Linked DNA regions of Homo sapiens. The protein of the gene in region 4 interacts with the protein of the main gene of each other region in a biochemical or structural test. Each region holds a gene or a part of one and is shown on either strand. Other genes may lie near its edges.

Region 1 (3,500 bases), on a different chromosome or scaffold from region 4:
ATATTTATATTAGAGTTTTAGGTATCAGAAGAAATACTTAACACATCCTTGGTTCTGTACCTTCACAATAAACTTTTCTCAGCTGGTGCTGGTGGGGAGGATTTCTGCAATTGAAAGAAGCAAAAATATATATTATTGCTGTACATTCTTGATTTTTTATTTTTTTACTCAGTCTCGCTCTATTGCCTAGGTTGGAGTGTAGTGGCACGATCTTCTCTCACTGCAACCTCCGCCTCCCGGGTTCAAGCGATTCTTCTGCCTCATCCTCCTGAGTAGCTGGGATTACAGGCGCCCGCCACCACGCCTAGTTAATTTTTGTATTTTTAGTGGAGACAGGGTTTCACCAAGTTGGCCAGGCTGGTCTTGAACTCCTGACCTCAGGTGATCCACCCACCTCAGCCTCTCAGAGTGCTGGAATTACAGGCGTGAGCCACTGCACCCATCCATATTGCTATACATTCTTAACACGGGAGATAACTACCCCTAAGGAGGTGAAAATTGGTTTGTGTATGTGAGTAGGTGTAAATAATCTTACTGGTTGATTGTTTAAAGCACAGATATGCACAGAGGACATAGGATATCTATGGTATTAAAATTTCATGGGACTGGTGGGGAGGGAATAGTTCTTAAAAGAGTTCTTAGAGGAGCAATAGTAAAAAAAAAAAAAAGGTTGAGAAACACTAACTTAAATTACCCTTTCTAGGTTTAAAGTGGTAGAAATGACTTAACCATGGCACTCTCTATGTGTATAGAAACTAAGTTCCAATGAGTTGTTTAATTATATCCTGTTTTTAGGCCATAACCTAAGGGTTTAACTGCTCATGAAATGCTTAAACGCTTTCCTTTTTTTTTTTTTGGAGATGGAGTCTCGCTCTGCTGCCCAGGCTGGAGTGCAGTGGCGCGATCTCAGTTCACTGCAACCTCCACCTCCCAGGTTCAAGCGATTCTCCTGCCTCAGCCTCCCAAGCAGCTGGGACTACAGGCATGCACCACCACGCCTGGCTAATTTTTTGTATTTTTAGTAGAGACAGGGTTTCATCATGTTGGTCAGGCTGGTCTCGAACTCCGGACCTCAAATGATCCTCCTGCCTTTTGTTCTTGTTACTGAGGCACAAATACTCTGATTGGTAGTGTGATAAATTGTAAAACTACATATATGTGTGTGTATATATTTATATTGTGTGTGTAAAATTATATGTGTAATTTTACACAATATAAATGTTATATTTATATATAAACATACGTATATATGTATGTATATGTAAAACTACATGCGTGTATATATTGTGTGTAAAATATAGTTATATATAATTTTAGATAATATAAATGTATTATATTTATATATAAATATATAAATTATATATGTAAAACTACATGTGTATATATTTATATTGTGTGTAATATATATAATTTATATATACATATAAATTTTATATATATAAAATATATGTAATTTTACACACACACAATATAAATGTATACACACACATATATGTGGTTTTACATATATATGTAATTTTACACACAATGTAAAAAACGCACCCCTTCTCCCATATAATAAACCTTTCCCTGGCCGGGTGCGGTGAGTCACTCCTGTAATCCCAGCACTTTGGGAGGCTGAGACCAGTGGATCACTTGAGGTCAGGAGTTCAAGACCAGCCTGGCCAACATAGTGAAACCCTGTCTCTACTAAAAATACAAAATTAGCCATGTGCAGTGGCACGCACCTGTAATCCCAGCTACTCAGGAGGCTGAGGCAAGAGCATCACTTGAACCCGGGAGGCAGAGATTGCAGTGAGCCGAGATCTCACCATTGCACTCCAGCCTGGGCAAAAAAAAAAAGGGAAACTCCGTCTCAAAAACAAAACAAAAGAAAAACCTTTCCCCTGGATATCACTTAAATGGATGTATTGTGATGTATTGTTTTCTGAAGGATTTATCCTGTGTATTGGATCACTCATTCAACAAATATGTTGAGTAATTTTGTATGCCAGGTATAGAATATGCAATATAGGTTCATAATTTGCTTTTATGGCCTAATATATCTGGGGCATGTATCTTTGTTAGTAGATGGAGACCTGCCTCCTTTTGATGGCTGTATAGTAGACCATAATTAACTATTCCTTACTGATAGACATTTAGATGGTTTCTAATTTTTTGACTTCAAAAGCATAGTTTTGCTATAGAAATACTTTCTAAGTAGAATGTTGTATCAAAGGGCAGGACCGTTTTTTAATATAATTGATACTGCTAAGTTGCACTCCAGAAAAAGATTTGAAGTCCCACAACAGCGTATGTATTTATGTCTGTTTCTCCATGCCTTTGCCAACACTGGACTCAGTAGAGTTCATTCTCAAGTTTACATTGCTTTTTTTATTTGTGATGTTGAGCTTACATCTCCTGTTTATTTATGTTTTTTGCCCGTATTTCCTTTTGAGTTACCTCTTCATATAAGGTAAATTATACCTTCTCCACCCAATAAATAGGTGCAGATCATTTTCTTGTTTAACTTAAAATCTTAAGTCCTGTTATTGGTTAGAAGCTGTAAGTTGCTTTTTTAATGGAGCCTTGCTCTGTCACCCAGACTGGAGTGCACTGGCATGATCTTAGCTGACTGCAGCCTCCTTATGGGCTCAAACGATCCTCCCACCTATGCCTCCCAAGTAGCTCTGGCTACAGACATACACCACCATACCTGGATTTTTATTTTATTTATTTATTTTTTTTGAGTCGGAGTCTGGCTCTGTCGCCCAGGCTGTAGTGCAGTGGCGCAATCTCTGCTCACTGCAACCTCCGTCTCCCAGATTCAAGCTATTCTCCTGATTCAGCCTCCCAAGTAGCTGGGATTACAGGCGCCCACCACCACACCCAGATAACTTAATTTTTTTTTTTTTTAAGAGATGGCATGTCACTATGTTGCTCAGGCTGATCTGGAACTCTGGCCTCAATCTTCCCACCTCAGACCTCCCATTCAATGATTTCATAAAGTATGTGTTCATCTATTGTTGTCTTCTGGGACTTTTATGTTTGGGCCATTAAAACTTTTGTCATTCTGGTATTTGGTATGGAATCAGAATCCAGCCTTTTTTTCCTAAATGATTGAGTTTTTGTTGTTATTTTGAGGCGGAGTCTTGCTTTGTCACCCAGGCTGGAGTGCAGTCACACAATCCCCGCTTACTGCAACCTCTGCCTCCTGGGCTCAAGCAGTCCTCCTGCCTCAGCGTCCTGAGTAGCTGGGATTGCAGGCATGCGCCACCATGCCCAGCTGATTTCCATTGTATTTTTTGTAGAGAGTAGGTCTCACCACGTTGCCCAGGCTGGTCTGAAAACTCCTGGGCTCTTGCAATTCACCCACTTTGGCTTCCCAAAGTTCTGGGCTTATAGGCATGAGCCACTATACTCAGCCAAAAAAATTTTTTTATTCAGTCAACCATTGATGGACACTTGGGTTGATTTCCGTATCTTTGGTATTGTGAATAATGCTACAGTGAACATACAAG
Region 2 (3,500 bases), on a different chromosome or scaffold from region 4:
TACTTGAAAATAGATGTTACCTGTTAAAATTCTTGTTTAAACTTCCACAACTCTTAAAACTCTTTTTTGCTAGTCCTTCCAGCTGTTTCCTTTAGTTTCTTTTCTGTGTCTTCATGCATCTTTTCTATCTCCTGAAAGTGAAAAGACTAACATTGGATCCAGAGCTTGAAAAGCGTTTTTTTCCTGTTACAATGGGCAAAAGAGTACATCCTTGGGTTATATTGGCACCTAGTATCAGTTATTTTTCTTGAGCATCTGATCTGCTCTCTACTCTAGTGGAGGCCTCCTGCTTCACAATTGCTCACCCCTGTGTTTTCTCCCCAAATAGAATACTGAGTTTACTCTGGACTCTAGAGTCAAACATACACAGTATTCTAGTCTTACTGTTCATTTAAGCAAGATATGTGCAAGACACTGCATTCTTAGTACTGGCAGTAAGTTAAAACATTTTTCGTCTTGATGCCAAAGTTTAGACAATTTTATAAAAATTAACCTTTGTAAAAGATAATGAGTTGATAAAATATTCTCAGTAAAGCAGCTACGTGGTAGAAAAACTGTCCTTTGCTTATGAGTTTCTCCAGAGTTAAGACCATTGGGTTCCATCTGAAGGCAAGACTTCAAGCTTGTCTTACTGGTCTGTTTTGTGGCTCAATTTGTATGAAGTCTATGCACTCTTCCACACGTGTGTATTTACTGAACTATCGAGTTATTTTAGACTGAGAAAGTATTGGAGTTCATTCCTACGGTCCACTGCAGAGCACCTTGTGCAGTTTGGAGAATGTCAACTTTTCTACCTGTTAACTTCCATTGTCTTTACTTTTAACGCCATTGTCTGTGACTCTAATGGTGTCACGGCTCAGGGTTTAGATTTTGTGGTTACATTCTATTCTTGTATGTCAAGAGTGGTGTATAGAAAGCTGAGGGGGATTATTTAGTCTCTTGACTGATTTTTTTTTTTTTTCTGAAGAACTCAGTTTATTATGTTTGGTGGTGAAATAAAAATTGATGTGCATGGATGTTAAAGATTTGGGTTAAATTGTGTGTTCATAGATGCCTTCTCTTAGTATATAATTTTTTAAATTTAGATACTTAAAATACTGTATCCCTTTATCTAAGATTAACATAAGTCTGTTTCTTAACCAGGATAAAAAAATCTAAATTTAAATGTGATGTTGGATGAGTTTCCAATCAAGAAATTGATTTTTTAAACTTTGTGACTAGTTATCCAGTGGGTGGATTTTACCCAGTGTGTGTATGTGTTTTCTGCTTAACTCTGGAAGGTTAGAAAGAGAATTTGAAACTAAGACAAGCCAAGCTTCTTGTTGCTCAGTATTTTTGGTAAAAATATGGTCAGATTGTTTAAATTAACTATAGGCTTTGGAATTTTAAAAATAATTATATCTCTTGGTCTCTTGACACATCAAGAATTAACTGTTTTGTATATGCGTTGAGTATTAATGTTCATGTTTTCTGCAGTAGAAATTTATAAACCCTTATTTATTTGCCAGACATGATCCCTTTAGAGAAATCTAGTATCTAAAACCTGAATTTTTAAAACAAAATTTAAAATTTTTGTTTCATAAAAACAAAAATGTGATTACCTCATGGCTTTTTTCTTATAGCTTTTGATTGTTTTTTAAAATCGTAGTTCAAAAACATTAACCTAAAATTTACCATCTTAACCATTTCTAAGTACTGTTCAGTAGTGTTAAGTATATTCACATTGTGCCACTAACTTCCAGAACTTTTTCATCTTGCAAAGCTGAAATCTTACCCATTAAACAACTCCCAATTTCCCCCTCTCCTCAGCCTCTGGCAACCACCATTTTACTTTCTGTTTCTGCAAATTTAACTACTCTAGATGCCTCATATAAATAGAATTATAGGGTTTTAATATTTTTGTGATGGGCTTATTTCACTTTGTGTAATGTCCTCAAGGTTCATCCATGTTGTAGCATGTGTCAGAATTTCCTTCCTTTTTGAGTCTGAGCAATATTCCATTATATGTTCCATATTTTGTTTCTCCATTCATCCAGCAACGGACACTTGGGTTGCTTCCACATCTTGGTTATTGTGCTGCTCTGAACATGAGTCTGCAAATCTCTCTTTGAAGCTTTCACTTTTTTTGGATACATATCCAGAAGAGGGATGCTGGATCATATGGTAACCCTTTTTAATTTTCAAGGAACCACCATATTGTTTTCTATAGCAGTTGCACCAGTTTACATTCCCACCAACAGTGCACAAGGGTTCCTATTTCTCCACATCCTTCTAAACACTTGTTTTCTTTCTTTCCTTCCTTCTCTTCTCTTTCTTTCTTAGCCATCTAATGTGGCAAAGTGGTAGCCATCTAATATGTTGAAGTGATTGTTTTTAAGGGCTTGTTTGTGGATAATTAACCAGCTGAAAGCTAACTACAGTTTGCCAGTGGAAGCTTTAACTGAAAGGAGAGTAAGTACCTCTAAAAGGAGAATTCAATTTTTCTAGTGACTTAGATTTGTTATGCCAGTACTTTTTCACAGAAACACTTTTTGGGTAAAATAGTGTACACCTGTTCTATTGTTGATAAAGCCCAATTTAATTAGGAAATTTGTTCTCTAAGATTTAAAACAATAATTGAAATAATGTATTTTTATTAAAAACTGTTCCCAAGATGTTAGCTTTTAGCTGTTCTGGTGATCTCAACTGTTATTTATGAGTGTTTCTTTATTTTAAAATTTCACCTTAACCGGTTACAGTTTTAACCATAAAGATTATTTCAACATATGATTTTGAAAATTTATTATCTTGTAAATGGGAAAATGTAGTGATGGAACATAGTTTACTGTATGTAGTTCTTCACTTGTTTGAAAAGTCACAATATATTTAGGCAAATTAATTTAAAAGTGTCTAGTATTTAATATTGCAATTTTCACTCATTAAGGACAGGTCCCCCGTGTTTCCCCCTTTTTTTTTTCCAAGTAGTTTGGGAGGATTTGTTTTTCCAGCTGAAAAATACTATGGTTAAAAATAAGGTTTAAAGGCGAAAGTTGAAGTCTTTGAGGGTTGGGATACGTTTCTGTTCTTAAGAGTCTTGTAAATTCAGATGCTAAGCAAATTTCTTTAAAATGATTTCTACCCTCCCCCTTTCCATTATAAAACTGGATATGTTTCAGTGGACCAAATCCCAAGTAGGCTGAATTTGAAATTTGTGGGCTGGGCGCGGTGGCTCATGCTTGTAATCCCAGTACTTTGGGATGCCGAGGTGGGTGGATCACCTGAGGTCAGGAGTTCGAGACCAGCCTGGCCAACATGGTGAAACCCCATCTCTACTAAAAATACCAAAATTAGCCAGGCGTGGTGGCGGGTGCCTGTAATCCCAGCTACTTAGGAGGCTGAGGCAGGAGAATTGCTTGAACCTGGGAGGCGGAGGTTGCGGTGAGCCAAGATCGCCCCATTGCACTCCAGCCTGGGTGACAGAGCAAGACTGTGTTTCAAAAAAATTAAAAAAGAAATCTGTG
Region 3 (3,500 bases), on a different chromosome or scaffold from region 4:
TTTTTAATAGACATGGGGTTTCACCACGTTGGCTAGGCTATTCTCAAACTCCTAACCTCGGGCGATCTGGTCACCTCATCCTCCCAAAGTGCTGGGATTACAGGCATGAGCCACCGTGCCCGGCCACTTTTTTTCTTGAGATGGTGTTTTACCATGCTACTCAGACTGGACTTGAATCTCTGGGCACAAGCTATCCTCCCCTCTCAGACTATGAAGCAGGTGGGGTTACAGGAGCATAACCAAGCCCAGCTTGTTTGGTTATCACTTTTAAGAATATTTCTCGTTAGTAAGAATTGAAATACATTCCAAGAGAAGAATGGGAAACAGGCTAAAAACACAAATTAGAAATAGGGATGGTATGGTTCGGATTGGTTTAGTCTGATTTTGAGTTACCTTTGTACAAGTTTATAAAATAAGTGTTTAATAGCATTCACCGAGGCTCGGGGACAAGCAATCCCTTCCAGAAAGGCTTTGGAGTAGGACCTGATTGTAGTATTGACCCTGTTGGGGCTTTGGAAGATTTCCTTTTTTAAAAATTGATATAATTAGGCCAGGCATGGTGGCTCACGCCTGTAATCCCAGCACTTTGGGAGGCTGAGGTGGGTGGATCACTTGAGGTCAGGAGTTCAAGACCAGCCTGGCCAACATGGTGAAACCCGGTATCTACTAAAAATACAAAAATTAGCTGGGTATCGTGGTGCCTGCCTATTGGTCCCAGTTACTTAGGAGGTTGAGTCAGGAGAATTGCTTGAACCTGGGAGGTGGAGGTTGCAGCAAGCCAAGAATGCGCCACCGTGTTCCATCCTGGGCAACAGAGGGAGACTCCCATCTCAGAAAAATGGGTATAAATTCATGATGTAACCACAATGTAATTTTGTTTGTCTTTAAGTTGGGCATTGATAGGAATGAAAAGTGTAGATATCAAGGTCCAAATCAGTACCTGGTTTTTTTTGTGGGATTTTTTTTTTTTCGGCAAGTCTCGCTCTTGTGCCCCAGGCTGGTGTGCAATGGTATGATCTCTGCTCGCTGCAACCTCTGCCTTCCAGGTTCAAGTGATTCTCCTGCCTCGGCCTCCAGAGTAGCTTGGATTACAGGCACTTGCCACCACGCCTGGCTAAGTTTTGTATTTTTAGTAGAGACGGGGTTTCACCATGTTGGCCAAGCTGGTCTCGAACTCCAAAGTGCTGGGATTACAGGCGTGAGCCACCATGCACCGCCGCAAGTTTTCATATAAGTTGAAGAAAGTGTACTAAGGTCTGCATAGTAGTAAAGGATGCCTTGAGGGAAACAAATATTAATAGAAACTTCAGTGGTGAGATGGCAAGGGCCCAGCATAGATAGATGGCAATGAAAATGCAAAGAGGTGCATGAAGGTTCGTTATAGTTACTTAGAAATCTAACCTTTTGAACACAGATCAAAGGGGAATTTGGTTCCTTTTTGAGGATGGAATGGGTATATGGTGTGGGCTCAGATGACTCTTGATTTAAGCAAGAAAGGCTATGTAATGTGCATAGTGCTGATGTATACTATACATAGATGTATGTAATACGTTGATAGTATGTGGCCCTTAAATGTCTTTTTTAATTTTTGGGGAATTTCTTAAGTAAAGCTGAATTTTTTTTTTTTTTTTTGGAGACAGTCTCTGTTGCCCCGGCTGAAGTGCATTGTTGGCTAGGCTGGAGTGCAGTGGTGCAATCATGGCTCACTGTAACTTCTGCCTCCCGGGTTCAAGTGATTCTCCTGCCTCAGCCTCCCAAGTAGCTGGGATTACAGGCATGTGCCAGCATGCCAGGCTAATTTTTTGTATTTTTAATAGAGATGGGGTTTCGCCATGTTGGTCAGGCTAGTCTTGAACTCCTGACCTCAGGTGATCTGCCCACCCCAGCCTCCCAGAGTGCTGAGATTACAGGTGTGAGCCACCACACCCTGCCAGTAAAGCTGTTTTGATAGTAGTTTTGATAGCTATTTTGATAGTAGTTTAATAGACTTGTTTTAACAAATAAGAAAAAATGTTTAAAAAAAGCATTCTCATCTTGTTTCTAGCACAGGGGAGGCACCTGCAGGGATTGGGTTCTAATGCCAGAAACTTGTACTGACAAAATCACTGTTAAAAAGCCACTTGAAGGGCTATTTGTGACAGCTTTTTAAGTTATGATACTTTTTCTAAATACAGCAAATATTTCTTCGGTATTGGAAAGATAGGTGTTTCTTACATGAAGTTGCTGTATTGGGATTTAGAGACCAGTACGTTCAGTTGTTGAATTAAACGTGAACCCCTTGGTATTTGCTAATAGAGACTTCTGCCTGACTTGCCCTCCAGTGACTCGATTTGATTACTCCCCTCCATTGTTTACCTATTAACAGTTCACACCTGTAATCCCAGCACTTTGGGTGGTCGATGCGGGCAGATCACCTGAGGTCAGGAGTTGAAGACCAGCCTGGCCAATATGGTGAAACCCCGTCTCTGCTAACATACAGCTGGGTGTGATGGTGGGCGCTTGCAATCCCAGCTGCTGGGGAGGCTGAGGCAGGAGAATTGCTTGAACCCGGGAGGCGGAGGTTGCAGTGAGCCGAGATCGCACCATTGCATTCCAGATTGGGCAACAAGAGTAAAACTCAAAAAAAAATAGTGTGCAGTTCAGTGGTTTTAGTATGCATAGTTGTGTAGCCATCACCATAATCAATTTTAGAACATTTCATCACCTCAATGAGAAATCGTACTCTATAGGTATTACCCCTCATGCTCTTCAGCTCTAGTCAACCACGAATGAACTTTGTCTATAGGTTTCCTGTCCCTCATATTTTGCACGAATGGACTTCTGTGACTGTTTTCTTAGCACAGTGTTTTCAAGTTTCATCCATGTTATAGCATTATCAGTACTCCATTTATTTATATGGTTGAATACATTGTATGGGTATGTTTGGTTATTCATCAGTTGGTGAGCATTTGAGTTGCTTCTACTTGTTGACTGCTATGAACGCTTGTAGACATGTCATTTTACTTGGATGTACACCTAAAGCAGAGTGGCTCACCCATTGTATTCCCACTAGCAGTGTATGGGGCTTCTGATTTCACTCCAACCTACTGATTTCACTACACCCTCACTTGCCATTATCTGACTCTAATCCTGGTGGTATGAAGTGCTGATTGTGGGTTTGATTGCGTCTCCCTGTGGACTAATAATGAGCATCTTTTCATGTATTCATTGGCCATATATCTTTGGAGAAATGTTTTTGCCCACTTAAATCCATTTACTTCTCTTTGTCTTTACTAAGTTGTAAGAATTCTTTTTTCTTTTTTCTTTTTGATATGATTTTTGTATTTTTAGTAGAGAAGGGGTTTTGCCATGTTGGCCAGGCTGTTCTTAAACTCCTGTCTTCAGTGATCCACCTCCCTCTGCCTCCCAAACTGCTGAGATTACAGCTGTGAGCCACTGTGCCTGGCAAGAATTCTTTTTTTTTTTTTTTTGACAAGTCTCTGTTGCCCAGGCTTGAGTGC
Region 4 (3,500 bases):
AATTATCTCCTAAAAGGTACTGTTGTTTGTAGTAACAAAAAAAGTACAATTAAAAAAAATGAAGAAAAATCTTTCTTCCGCTTAGCCACCTAGTATTTTTCTCCATTGGCAACTAGTATTACTAAATTCCTATTTATTCTTTCTGAGAACTTTTGTATATTAAAATGTTCTCCTCTCCCCCACCTTTTTTTTTGGTAAATGGTGGCATACTATTCATAGTATTTTGTAGTTTTTATTTTTATTTCATTTCATAGATCTCCAGTTTACATGAACCAGCTTTCTTTGAGAGTTGGGAGGGTAGTATTATTTCCTTTGGAATTCATACAGACATAGCCAATGCCATCATTTTGTGATGAAAGTTTCTAGGCCCTTCAGAAAGCCAGTCTTTCCAATTTTTTTAAGAAGAGAGTGTTAAGTGAATATAAAGTGTTTTATGGATTGTATTAGGGTTCTCCAGAGAAACAGAACCAATGAGAGAAAGAAATTTAGTTTAAGAAAGTGGCTCGTGTCTTTGGGAGCTGGCAAGTGTGAAATCTGTAGGGCACACTGGCCCACTATAAATTCAGGTTAAGAGTTGATGTTGTTGAATCCCTTTTCTTCAGAAAACCTAGTCTTTGCTTTTAAGGGTTTCAACTGATTGGATGAGGCCAACTTGGACTACAGGCGTGCGCCACTACCCCCAGCTAATTTTTTTGTAGTTTTAGTAGAGACAGGGTTTCACCATATTGGCCAGGTTGGTCTTGAACTCCTGACCTCGTGATCCACCCGCCTTGGCTTCCCAAAGTGTTGGGATTACAGGCGTGAGCCACCGCACCCAGCCAGATTACAACTTTCCTTTGTGCAACTAAAAATGTATGGATGGTTCTTGACTTAGGAGGGTTCAAGTCAGGATTTTTCAACTTTACAGTGGTGTGAAAGCAATATGCAATCAGTAGGAACTGTATTTTGAATACCCATACAGTCACTCTGTTTCTCATTTTCAGTACAGTATTAAGTAAATTACACGAGATAGTCAACCACTTTATTATAAAATAGGCTTTGTGTTAGATCATTTGTTCAGCTGTAGGCTAATGTATGTGTTCTGAGCATGTTTAAGGTAGGCTAGGCTAGGCAATGAAGTTTGGTAGGTTAGGTGTATTAAGTGTACTTTTTACTTAATATTTTCAACTTATGATGGGATTAGTGGGGCATAACCCCATTCATTGTAAGTTGAGGCACATCTTTACTAACTCCTTCTGCGGAAGAGGATGCAAAATCTTTGGGTGATGTTCACTCCTGTCCTTGATAGCCTGTGACTTAAATATTATAATGTAAAGTTAACAATACTTAAATAGTGTAATGTAAAGTCAGTACAGCTTGCTATAAGAGGATGAGAGAGGGAAGAAAAAGATATTTGCTTAATGTGTGTATATATATATATGAATGTGTTTATGCAAACATATTCATAACAAATCATATAGAAACCTTGATTTAGGAATCAGTCTTGCAATTTTGAAAATAGTTACTTTTCTGATTCTTGAGTAGAATGCGTCATATATTCCCCTATGAGGATTCTTAGGTATTGCTTACCAGTCATCTAGCATTTACAGCTTAGTGCAGCTTTCTTCACAATTCATCTTGTTGACTGCTACCCTTCATGAAATAAGAACTTTGTTTCTTTCTGACAAATGACCCTGAGAAGAAAATTAACTGCTAATACTGGGGATGAGTTATGGTGGGAAATGGAAACATTCTAATAAAGCAAGAAGGTAGTGGGAAACTGGAAAGTTTTAATAAAACAAGAAAGAAATTTTAAATAAGTTTAAGAGTCAGCTGTTGAATTTGGCAGTGGCTGGATTTATACAGGACCACTCTATTTACTCACTCAATAAGTATTGCAGAGCATTTACAGTACACCAGCCCTTAGTGATAGAGTAAGACAGACAGGGTCTTGGGCTTACAAGGAAGTTACAGTATACTGGAGGAACACAGAAAAATATCTGGGAGTGTAATAAGGGCTGGGGCATACGATTGAAATATGGTGCTGTGATAGAGATAAAGTGGCTACTTTAGGCTTGGAGGTCTTGAAAAGCCATCTTTTAAAACTTAACATTTAATTTTGATAAGAAAGAATAGCCAGCTATGTGATGAGCAAGGAGGGGAAGAGCAATAAGCTCCTTGTCTTATTTACTAGTAAGATCACTTTCTACTGTGAGCTTTTTAATGATAGACAAAGAATTTGGCTTCATTATATTATTAATAATCTTACACGTTTCTATATGTAAAGATTGTCCTACCTTTATGTAACTTCTGGGGAAGTATGATTAACTTAATAACTTGGCCATGATATCTGTTATCTTTCTTTCCTTTGAATTAAGGGTGATAATTTATTATATGTTCTTTTTGTTTGTGATCGCAGGGTGGTGTCATCACTTCTGACATGATTGAAATGATATTTTCCAAAAGCCCAGAGCAACAGCTTTCAGCAACACAGAAATTCAGGAAGCTGCTTTCAAAAGGTGAGCTATGAATATGTTCAGTATATTTTTTCATCTCTCTACAAAATTACTTTCCCATAGTCTGTTTTTCATACCACAGGTAATTTGTGTTGGAGTATTTTTATCAATAAAAGAATAAAAATACAGACATATATGTAATTGTGAACCATGCCTAAATTTTAAGTTTCCTATTTATTTGTGGGATCTCACCAGGATCAGAAAACAGAATTATTTTCATTTTTGGGTTATTTTATAAAAGACTTTATAGTGAATAGTAGTCAGTATCATGTTAATTCAAATTGAGAGACTGACTTTTTTTTATAGAGTGACTTTAAAAATACTCCTTGAAAGAGTTATGATTGTTGATTTTAATGTTAGCAATTTACCACTGAAAGTTAGGAATGCATTTACTGGTGGGCAGGGTGATTACCTTTTTTTTTTTTTTTAAAGACGGCTCTGTTGCCAGTCTGGAGTGCAGGCTGGGCGCGATCTTGGCTCACTGCAACCTCCGACTCCCTGGTTCAAGCGATTTTCCTGCCTCAGTCTCCCGAGTAGCTGGGATTACAGTTACACGCCACCACCCCCAGCTAATTTTTGTATTTTTTTTTTTTTTTTGAGATGGAGTCTCACTCTGTCGCCCAGGCTGGAGTACAGTGGCGCTATCTCGGCTCACTGCAAGCGCCGCCTCCCGGGTTCACGCCATTCTCCTGCCTCAGCCTCCCAAGTAGTTGGGACTACAGGCGCTCGCCACCGTGCCCAGCTAATTTTTTGTATTTTTAGTAGAGACGGTGTTTCACTGTGTTAGCCAGGATCTCGATCTCCTGACCTTGTGATCCTCCTGCCTCGGCCTCCCAAAGTGCTGGGATTACAGGCGTGAGCCACTGCGCCCGGCCTTTTTTGTATTTTTAGTAGAGATAGGATTTCACCATGTTGGCCAGGATGATCTCGATATCCTATCATGATCCGTCTGCCTCTGCCTCCCAAAATACTGGGATTACAGGCATGAGCCACCGCACCCGGCTG
Region 5 (3,500 bases), on a different chromosome or scaffold from region 4:
TGCCATGGCAACAGATTGAGCAGCGCTGGAAAGCTGGGATCAAAGCCAAAGCAAGGCAGCTCAACTGAGTTTGAAGCAGGAGAACAGAAAACGTGGGCTAACTTGTGAGAGGCACACTGAACAGCCATGTGAAGAGACAGATGCCTGTGGAAGCATGCAGATATATTTAATAAGACACTTGATTAAAATCTAATAATTAAAACAGTCATGAGAAAGCCACTGAGTTATTTATAGATCACTTGCTCAGATAAGACCAAGAATCAGAAAGACAATGTAAGCTTTAGAGGATTATAATGCAATCACCAGCATCTCAGTAAATGATGGGTGAGGGAAGAATCGGTAATACCCCCTCATCAATTTCACAGTAGAAGCAGATGTGTGGCAGGATGTACTAGGTTAAAGGTATTCTTTCTGTAAGAACGGAATGCATGCAGCCCAGAGGACAGGGGACATGAACAGGAAACAGAGCCATACCTGGTACTGCTCTTAGTTATGGGTCATAAACTGCATCAGTTAGACACAGGAGAAAGCAGTGAACAGTTAATGGAAGGAACTGTTGGCCAGTGTTAACTGGTGACACAGAAAGGAAAGGTCTAGCCACCTGGAGGGGCAGCTACAGCCTAGCCCAGACCTGTAACTTATCTTCTGAGCAGTGCCATGCAATCCAAACCTTGCAGCCCTAAAGTATCTATCTGTTCATAGGAAACACCAGGGTATGGAAGAAAGGATATGGAATTTAGACCCTGAGCCTGAATCTTAGTCTCTGACCCCACTGACAGGCTCCAAATGGAGACCTGTTCTCATCTCCTGCTAGACAGAGCATGATGTTGCAGGAGAGAAGACTGGCTTTGGAGGCAGTAGACCTAGATTCAAACCCAGGCTTTATTGGCCATATAACCCTCATCTATAAATGGAGGTAATGGGAGTTAGGAAGATTACATCCATGTACACAGAGACTTATCAGACACTTAATAATAACAGCAATGAATATTTAATGCTAAGGCTATAATTAAACATATCTAATCCATTTTACAGATGAGGTCTTAAGAGGTTAAATGACTTGCCCAAAGACACATTCAAGTCCCCACATTCTATGCAGTGATTTCATGGTTCAGTATATCTAAGTCAAGATCAGCCTCTGTTCCTCCTTTGAGACCATGAAGTCACACGATTAAGTAGGGAAATTAGAGAGAGGGGATGTGTGGAGAGACCCAGAAAGGCAGCCACTTTAGTGGTGACTGGTTCAAGGTGCACCGTCTCCTGGGACACCTTCCTACCATGGTGGCAATTGTGAGACTGCGCCAAGAGTATCTAAGCATCAGAACAGCAATCACATCACACGAATGGTGAGGTGTCAGCCAGGCCCAGTCTACATTAAGTGGGCCTGGGAGAGAAATCACTCTCTACCGATTTTTTTGTTTTTTTTTTTATGTTTGTTTGGTTTCTTTTTTGAGACAGGGTGTCACTTTGTCACCTAGGCTGGTACCATCTTGGCTCACTGCAACCTCAACCTCCTGGGTTCAAGCGATCCTGCTGCCCCAGCATCACCCCCTCTCCAAGTAGCTGGGACTACAGAAGTGCATCACCATGCCCAGCTAGCTAACTTGAATTTTTAGTAGAGACAGGGTTTCACCAGGTTGCCCAGGCTGGTCTTCTGAGCTCAAGCAATCCACCTACCTTGGCCTCCCAAAGTACTGAGATTACAGGTGTGAGCCACCATCCCTGGCCTCTACCAATTTAAATATGGGGAAACCCACTAAGGATGCTGATGACAGACAGTCCGGAAAATATCCTTAGTCAAGTGTGAACTCAGTTCGCTACTGAAAGAGCATTTAATAGAAATGACATCTCTTCTCTGAAAGCTGTTTAAGCCCAGTAACAGGATACATAGTGAAAAAGGAAAGGAAGATGCCCAGACCAGATGGGTGTTTTAGTTTTTTTTTTTTTTTTTTTTTTCTGTTTTTTCTGGTGGCAGGGGGTGGCGTTTTAAACTTGGGGGCTTGGAGGGGCTGAGGTCAAAGGGCAGCGGGTCTTTCACTGGCTAGAAAGGGAATAGAAAGGCTGAAGGAAAACCATATCTGGATAAAGTTTAAGTTCACTGAGCATGACCTAAGACTACTGGGAGAAAGTTAATTTCCAGCACTCATTTTACCAAACCTATGTAACCCTGATCAGGGATCCCTGAGTTAGCTCCAGAGCTGGAACAGACAGGGCAAAGGGACTGAGCCTCCAACCCTGAGCAGTGGCCAGGCACTCGACATGACAAGCTGGAAGAGCCTGAAGAACGAGCTCTCAGAGGAGAAAGAAGGGAAAGAGCCTCCACGACTCCTCCAGACGCTCAGTCCAGGGCCGCCAGGGTCAGCCACCCTCCCCGCTGTCTCTATCTGTGGCCCTGCCACCAGTCACTCAACCCGACTTTTTGGTCTAGAGTAAGAGCAGCAGCTGTACCCCAATGGCACAGCAAAGCAAATCCCCCTACAGGCACCATGCAAGGCCAGCACAGGCAGCTCAGTGAAGGCAACAGACTCCAGTGCAGGTCCACAAGGGCCCCCTGCGGGAGCGCCTGTCTGCAGGATGCGGGGCAGAGGGAACTGAATTGGAAGCCAAAGGAAGAGGGCAGCTGGGAGCAGGAGCCCCTAGCCCTTTTCAGAATAGGGCAAAGGTACTCAGAACTTCTGACTCTGAGGAAGAGGTACAAGACCTCCTTTCACTGCAGAAGTATCCCAGGACTTAAGCCATGGGAAGAATTCACAACCTTGAAGTCAGAAGTGAAATAAACTGTGTGGTGTCCAATGAAGGAGGATGCCTCCAGAGCAGAAGGAAATGGAGGGGTGGGGGTGTGGGCAGGAATGCAGAACAGGAGAAAAAAAAAAGCCACCTCCACTTCCACCCCCACCCTCTTGCTGCTGTAACTTGGAGGATAATGAAAGGCTGTGCATAAGAGGATGGAGAAACCTAAAAAGCTCTGCACCAGAGCTTGCATCCATCCCAGGCCCAGTCCGAAGCCCTGGGGGATGGGGCAGGCCCCAGAACTCACCAGGTGCTGCATGCGCACAGCCTCCAGAGGATAGTCCCCTTTGGCTGTTTCTCCAGACAGCATGATGCAGTCGGCTCCATCCAGGACTGCATTGGCCACATCACTGCCTTCAGCCCGAGTGGGGCGGGGCTTCTTGATCATGCTCTCCAGCATCTGGGAGGGGACAGAGCATTAGTGAGATGTAGCTTGAGCTGTCTTCAGAGACAAATGACAGCAAGCTGATCCTCTGGATAGTGAGTAGGTACACAGAGTATGGCTTTGTGTAGGTACATGGGGGAAGGGGATTATCTGTGTGTTACGTGCGACAATTCCATGGGAAGAGATCAGACAGCCTCCAGAGCTTTCCCATACAAACATGCGAGTGTGCACATGAGAATGTGGGGAAGGGTGGGCACATGCCTGAGTAGCACAGATGACAGGCTTCCCAGCTCGGTTGCACCGTCCAATCATCATCTTCTGAGCA
Region 6 (3,500 bases), on a different chromosome or scaffold from region 4:
GCCCTAAGATATATAACCAGTTATCACATTAACAAATTCTCTTTGTCATCACAAAGAAAATGCCTTAAAAGAATTTGGATCTTTGAAATTTGTCATGGAATTTATTATAAGCAGCAGCTTATAGAGAATTTCATCTCCTATTATAGGTAGAAGTAAAATCTGGAGAAGAAGATGAAGAAATTTTGTTTAAAGAGAGAGCCAAACTTTATAGATGGGATCGGGATGTCAGTCAGTGGAAGGAGCGCGGTGTTGGAGATATAAAGATTCTTTGGCATACAATGAAGAATTATTACCGGATCCTAATGAGAAGAGACCAGGTTTTTAAAGTGTGTGCAAACCACGTTATTACTAAAACAATGGAATTAAAGCCCTTAAATGTTTCAAATAATGCTTTAGTTTGGACTGCCTCAGATTATGCTGGTGAGTTTTTACATTCAAATGCTACTTTTCATTTTTTGGACTTTTCTAAAATCTATAACAAACAAAACAACTTATAACAGTTATTTTAATACTAAGGTCACTGCTTCCCCTTTCCCTCCCTGCCAGATGGAGAAGCAAAAGTAGAACAGCTTGCAGTGAGATTTAAAACTAAAGAAGTAGCTGATTGTTTCAAGAAAACATTTGAAGAATGTCAGCAGAATTTAATGAAACTCCAGAAAGGACATGTATCACTGGCAGCAGAATTATCAAAGGAGACCAATCCTGTGGTGTTTTTTGATGTTTGTGCGGACGGTGAACCTCTAGGGCGGATAACTATGGAATTATTTTCAAACATTGTTCCTCGGACTGCTGAGAACTTCAGAGCACTATGCACTGGAGAGAAAGGCTTTGGTTTCAAGAATTCCATTTTTCACAGAGTAATTCCAGATTTTGTTTGCCAAGTAGGTATTATTAAGTACATACCACAATTGAGGTCTTGAAGAGTGCACCACACTAATGGGAAATTTGAGTGTTTTTCCTTGACCTCATCCTGTAGTTTTGTTAAAGATTTCTTTAGGTTTTCCACACATGGAATCACATGGCATCACTACCCATTCCCTGCTCCTGCCTAAAACTTTCAACCTAAAATAATTGAGGCTGGGCACAATGACTCATACCTGTAATTCCAGCACTTTAGGAGGCCAAGGCAGGCAGATTGCTTGAGCCCCGGAATTTGAGACCAGCCTGGGTAACATGGCAAAAATCTCGTCTGGACAAAAAAATACAAAAATTAGCCAGGTGTGGTGGTGTGCGTCTGTGATCCCAGCTACAAGGAAGCTGAGGTGGGAGCATCCAGGAGGCCAAGGCTGCAGTGAGCTAGGTTTGCACCACTGCACTCCATCCTGGGCGACAGAGTGAGACAGCCTGTCATTAAAAAAAAAAAAAAAAAAAAAAAAAAAAATCAAATTTTCAGTACTTGAGATCTAGTAGAAACTAAGGGATGGGAAAAACCTTTTCATTTTTCATCTTCTTTCCAACAATATGAATTTCTTAGTTTTCAAACTATACTCAGGAAAGCTGGGCTTTAGGATTTAACATGTAGTGATGAGTTCTGTGTGTATTTTAATATTTTACTCAGGATTCCTATTAATTGAAAAAAATTTTTAACTTTTTTATTATAAATCTTTTTTTCAGGGAGGAGATATCACCAAACATGATGGAACAGGCGGACAGTCCATTTATGGAGACAAATTTGAAGATGAAAATTTTGATGTGAAACATACTGGTCCTGGTTTACTATCCATGGCCAATCAAGGCCAGAATACCAATAATTCTCAATTTGTTATAACACTGAAGAAAGCAGAACATTTGGACTTTAAGCATGTAGTATTTGGGTTTGTTAAGGATGGCATGGATACTGTGAAAAAGATTGAATCATTTGGTTCTCCCAAAGGGTCTGTTTGTCGAAGAATAACTATCACAGAATGTGGACAGATATAAAATCATTGTTGTTCATAGAAAATTTCATCTGTATAAGCAGTTGGATTGAAGCTTAGCTATTACAATTTGATAGTTATGTTCAGCTTTTGAAAATGGACGTTTCCGATTTACAAATGTAAAATTGCAGCTTATAGCTGTTGTCACTTTTTAATGTGTTATAATTGACCTTGCATGGTGTGAAATAAAAGTTTAAACACTGGTGTATTTCAGGTGTACTTGTGTTTATGTACTCCTGACGTATTAAAATGGAATAATACTAATCTTGTTAAAAGCAATAGACCTCAAACTATTGAAGGAATATGATATATGCAATTTAATTTTAATTCCTTTTAAGATATTTGGACTTCCTGCATGGATATACTTACCATTTGAATAAAGGGACCACAACTTGGATAATTTAATTTTAGGTTTGAAATATATTTGGTAATCTTAACTATTGGTGTACTCATTTATGCATAGAGACTCGTTTATGAATGGGTAGAGCCACAGAACGTATAGAGTTAACCAAAGTGCTCTTCTCTAGAATCTTTACACCTCCTGTGTGGTTACAAGTTAACTTTGTAAGTAGCGTACCTTCCTTCCTTAAAATATCTAGCTTCCTGTGCCCTTTCATAGATATTCGATTAATTTTTACATTTTAAACAAGTTGACTATTTCCTTTAGGGGTTTTGTTTCAAACTTTTCTGTCATCTGTCTCTACTACCTCAGAAACTGCAGCTTGGTTCTGATGATAGAAATTGAATTTTTCCTTGTAGTTATTGTGATAAAGTATGAATATTTTTAGAAAGTCTATACCATGTTCTTTCGTTAAAGATTTGCTTTATACAAGATTGTTGCAGTACCTTTTTCTGGTAAATTTTGTAGCAGAAATAAAATGACAATTCCTAAGAGCCACTGACATCCAAAAAATTCATTACTTACGCTTCGGGTTCATTCTAAAGTAAGGAAGACAATTTAAAGGCAGTAAATTCAAACTGCTGCATAATTTCCAGAGCTCCTAGTTTCTCAAGTTTGATACACACCAAAAACGTATTTGGAAATGGCTTGTATCAAATGTTAGGCAAATTGCTAAAGAAAAGAGGATGTTCTTATTGGCCTACTCAATATGGAACTACAAAGAATCCAGGTAGAACACAAAATTTTGTATATTGCAATTATGAATATTGACTGTCTTCCACCCATCTGTGTTCTTTCGGGTGAAATTACCTCATTTTATTTAGTGAGGAAAGACAGGTTTATTCCCTGTTACATGGGGATTTGGAAATTGGGTATCCTAAAGCAAGTAACTGTTCAACCACCAGTCAAAAGAGGGGAGGGATGTTGTGCGAGTAATGAGTGATGGTATACCATCACCATTCCACTCGGCCACAAAGCCAGATACTTGAAATAAACCTACTCCAAATGTATCAGTTCAGTCTTGAACCATGGATTACATATGTTTACACTAAATATTTCAAATTGGCTTATTTGGAAATCTATGTAATATAAACTGATGTAAAGTGTGTTGTAACTTTTCAGCTGAGACAGTTGATGCCTTCGTCATGATTTTAGAATAAATTCTTAAGTTAATGCAAGTGCTT
Region 7 (3,500 bases), on a different chromosome or scaffold from region 4:
GTATATATATATGAATCACTGAAGTCCTAGCAGAAAGGTTTTGAGACTTCTCATTTAATAAATAGTATGTACTAACAAATTTTGCAGTATAGCTGTTGCTTCAAAAGTATACCTGGCCATTTTTGATACACAGTTGGACTCTTTGTGACCAAGAAGCATACCTCTTTCTACCTCTGAGACCTTTAGGGACTCACTGCTGATTGATTGCAGTCTAAACTCTTCAGCATAGCTTTTGTAACCTTTCTCTGTTTGCCACAACTTTGTCAATACTTTAACTCACCATTCAACATCTTGTATACCCTATACTAAATAGAAGTGAATTACTCACCCTTTTTTTTTTTGAGATGGAGTTTTGCTCTTGTCGCCCAGGGTGGAATGCAGTGGCACGATCTCGGCTCACTGCAATCTTTGCCTCCCAGGTTCAAGCGATTCTCTTGCCTCAGCCTCCCGAGTAGCTGGGATTACAGGCGCCTGCCACCACACCCGGCTAATTTTTGTATTTTTAGTAGAGACGGGGTCTCACCACATTGGCCAGGCTGGTCTCGAACTCCTGACCTCAGGTGATCCACCTGCCTCGGCCTCCCAAAGGGCTGGGATTACAGATGTGAGCCACCATGCCCGGCCTACTCACCATTTTCTAAACTCCCTCACACTTTACTCTAGTTCTTCATTCATACTGTTCTCTACTGAGATTGTATTCTGTTAAACTCCTTCAAACTCCTATTCGTCTTTGAAGACCTATTTTCAAATACCAATTCTAGGCTGGGTGCTGTGGCTCACGTGTATAATCCTTTGGGAGGCTGAGGTGGAAGGATTGCTTGAGACCATCATGGGCAACATAGTGAGACCCCATCCCTACCAAAAAAAAAAAAAAGATTACAAATTTCAAATACCAATTTCTCTGTGATATGTTGTTATTCATACATTCAATCCAGAAGTGAACTCTCCTTCCTTTGTGTTCTGTTTCTTTAATGCTTTGGGCCCATTTTAATGACAGTCAACCATATTTGTGCCCGAATTAATGTAGTTAATTTGTGTTCTTACCTCTTTTCCATCTGGGAATCTGAATTATGTTAAATGCCATTAAAACTAAATGCCATTAAAACTAAATGTCATTAAAACTAATTGATCTGAGATTATACATAGTGAGTTCTTATTTTGTATTCTGTAGATTCCATGCAATGGAAAAGCAGCTGATCGCATCCATCAGGATGGAATTCATATCCTTGTAAATATGAATGGCTATACTAAGGGCGCTCGAAATGAGCTTTTTGCTCTCAGGCCAGCTCCTATTCAGGTAAACAAATTAACAGTCATCACTTATAACATGTATTTGGCTAAGAATACAGTGAGGTGCTGCTTTTCCTCCCTCTGGTTAACTGATATTTGAAACTGTAGGGCAGACATACTTTTAATTTTTTTAAGTTGTTGAAATGCACAGGACAAAAAGAGTGTAGAGCACAGTGCTTATAGGTACATGTATATAGAGACATGCAATTCATGGTTGGCTATGAACAGTTACTCTGTCTTGCAAATTTGAAGAACATTTTAGCATTTTGAAAGTTAGTCTGAAATACAGGCCGGGTATGGTGGCTCACGCCTGTAATCCCAGCACTTTGGGATGCTTAGGCAGGAGGATCTCTTGAAACCAGGAGTTTGAGTCCTGCCTGGGCAACAAAGCAAAACACCCTATCTCTACAAAAAATTAAAAAATTAGCCAGAGTGGTGGTGTGCCTCTGTGATCCCAGCTATTTGGGAGGCTAAGGTGGAAGGATTGCTTAAGCTTAGGAGTTTGAGGCTGCAGTGAACTATCACTATGCCACTGCACTCCAGCCCAGGTGACAGAGTAAGAGTCTCTCTTATAGAACTGCTTCATTGCTTTCGGCTAAAGAAGTCAGCCTTGCTGTGCGTGTGGCAAGTGCCTGTAATCCTGGCTACTCTGGAGGCTGAGGCAGAAGGATTGCTTGAGCCCAGGAGTTTGAGGCTGTAGTGATCTACGATTGCACCACTGTATTCCAGCCTAGGGAACAGAGTGAGATCCTGTCTCTAAAAAAGAGTTAGACCTCCTTGTTTATTTACTTATTTAATTTTGGCACCTTTAGGTTCTTTTTTTAAAAACCACTTTATTGAGGTACAGTTGACATACAAAAAGTTGTACATATTTAATGTATGTGACTTGATGAATTTAGAGGTAAGTGTACTGATAAAAGTTCTTAATCAGTTTTTGATCTGATTTTTTTAAGGCAATGTGGCTGGGATACCCTGGGACGAGTGGTGCGCTTTTCATGGATTATATTATCACTGATCAGGAAACTTCGCCAGCTGAAGTTGCTGAGCAGTATTCCGAGAAATTGGCTTATATGCCCCACACTTTTTTTATTGGTGATCATGCTAATATGTTCCCTCACCTGAAGGTAGGTATGAAACAGTGCTATGGACGAATTTCAAAGAACTGTAGCTTTTTATTTCCTTGCTATTGTCTATGTAAATCCTAAAAGACATGTCTGAAACTATTTTTTCCATTAGAAAAAAGCAGTCATCGATTTTAAGTCCAATGGGCACATTTATGACAATCGGATAGTTCTGAATGGCATCGACCTCAAAGCATTTCTTGATAGTCTACCAGATGTGAAAATTGTCAAGGTCAGAACCTAGTCAGTATTGTCATTGAAATAAAGTTAACTGCATTCACGATCTTTTCCCTAATGATGCATTTTTTTTTCAGATGAAGTGTCCTGATGGAGGAGACAATGCAGATAGCAGTAACACAGCTCTTAATATGCCTGTTATTCCTATGAATACTATTGCAGAAGCAGTTATTGAAATGATTAACCGAGGACAGATTCAAATAACAATTAATGGATTCAGTATTAGCAATGGACTGGCAACTACTCAGGTGAGAAGATAATAATACACCATTATATGTCCCGCCAAGTATGCATTTATTTCCCTTAACCTCATGATAACTCTAGGAGGCAAGTATCATTATCACCATTTTTATGGATGAGGAAATGAGTTTAGTGGAAACGTGCATCTTATATAGGTGTGTCTGATTTTAAAAGTCTCCTGGATTCAGCCAGCAGATTATTACTTACTGAGAAACTGCTGTGTTAATATCTTGTTATTCCCTGCCTGTGGCTTTACTCTCTTACATGATGAACTATGTGTAGATTCCATACAGTTTCTTGCTTCTGTAAACCCATCCTTTCCCTAGCTAAATCCTACTCAAACGTTCAGTTCAGACAGCTCTTCCAGGAATCCATTTCCGTACTTACCGCTAACGTCTCCATCCCTACTTCATTGGTACCTGTCTTTTATACCTCTGTAATGTTTGGAATATATCATTACATACAGCACAACAGATGATAATTCCCTGTGTTTGTATCCTCTACTGAATTGAATTACTGAGCCCATGTCTTAATCACAGTAATGTAGTATGTACTCAATAAATAATATATTGCATGCTTAAATAAGTAGCTCTATCAAGAGAGTGTAAGGCA

Evidence for each region.
Region 1: the proteins of KPNA1 (region 4) and RBBP4 form a complex in vitro, tested with the Homo sapiens proteins (one study listed by BioGRID).
Region 2: the proteins of KPNA1 (region 4) and HIF1A form a complex in vitro, tested with the Homo sapiens proteins (one study listed by BioGRID).
Region 3: the proteins of KPNA1 (region 4) and NPM1 form a complex in vitro, tested with the Homo sapiens proteins (one study listed by IntAct).
Region 5: the proteins of KPNA1 (region 4) and PKM form a complex in vitro, tested with the Homo sapiens proteins (2 studies listed by BioGRID).
Region 6: the proteins of KPNA1 (region 4) and RANBP2 form a complex in vitro, tested with the Homo sapiens proteins (one study listed by BioGRID).
Region 7: the proteins of KPNA1 (region 4) and OGT form a complex in vitro, tested with the Homo sapiens proteins (one large-scale study listed by BioGRID).

What each region holds. Positions count from the first base shown.
Region 1 is NC_000001.11:32,657,708-32,661,207, forward strand, and holds part of RBBP4 (histone-binding protein RBBP4), read left to right. Parts: intron 1-3,500. UniProt on the Homo sapiens protein: Core histone-binding subunit that may target chromatin assembly factors, chromatin remodeling factors and histone deacetylases to their histone substrates in a manner that is regulated by nucleosomal DNA.
Region 2 is NC_000014.9:61,698,513-61,702,012, forward strand, and holds part of HIF1A (hypoxia-inducible factor 1-alpha), read left to right. Parts: intron 1-3,500.
Region 3 is NC_000005.10:171,394,349-171,397,848, forward strand, and holds part of NPM1 (nucleophosmin), read left to right. Parts: intron 1-3,500. UniProt on the Homo sapiens protein: Involved in diverse cellular processes such as ribosome biogenesis, centrosome duplication, protein chaperoning, histone assembly, cell proliferation, and regulation of tumor suppressors p53/TP53 and ARF.
Region 4 is NC_000003.12:122,462,940-122,466,439, reverse strand, and holds part of KPNA1 (importin subunit alpha-5), read left to right. Parts: intron 1-2,398; coding exon 2,399-2,498; intron 2,499-3,500. UniProt on the Homo sapiens protein: Functions in nuclear protein import as an adapter protein for nuclear receptor KPNB1. Binds specifically and directly to substrates containing either a simple or bipartite NLS motif.
Region 5 is NC_000015.10:72,203,691-72,207,190, forward strand, and holds part of PKM (pyruvate kinase PKM), read right to left. Parts: coding exon 3,437-3,500; intron 3,191-3,436; coding exon 3,038-3,190; intron 1-3,037. UniProt on the Homo sapiens protein: Catalyzes the final rate-limiting step of glycolysis by mediating the transfer of a phosphoryl group from phosphoenolpyruvate (PEP) to ADP, generating ATP.
Region 6 is NC_000002.12:108,781,982-108,785,481, forward strand, and holds part of RANBP2 (E3 SUMO-protein ligase RanBP2), read left to right. Parts: intron 1-146; coding exon 147-420; intron 421-546; coding exon 547-881; intron 882-1,614; coding exon 1,615-1,920; 3' UTR 1,921-3,500. UniProt on the Homo sapiens protein: E3 SUMO-protein ligase which facilitates SUMO1 and SUMO2 conjugation by UBE2I. Involved in transport factor (Ran-GTP, karyopherin)-mediated protein import via the F-G repeat-containing domain which acts as a docking site for substrates.
Region 7 is NC_000023.11:71,560,604-71,564,103, forward strand, and holds part of OGT (UDP-N-acetylglucosamine--peptide N-acetylglucosaminyltransferase 110 kDa subunit), read left to right. Parts: intron 1-1,171; coding exon 1,172-1,297; intron 1,298-2,243; coding exon 2,244-2,414; intron 2,415-2,526; coding exon 2,527-2,643; intron 2,644-2,725; coding exon 2,726-2,896; intron 2,897-3,500. UniProt on the Homo sapiens protein: Catalyzes the transfer of a single N-acetylglucosamine from UDP-GlcNAc to a serine or threonine residue in cytoplasmic and nuclear proteins resulting in their modification with a beta-linked N-acetylglucosamine (O-GlcNAc).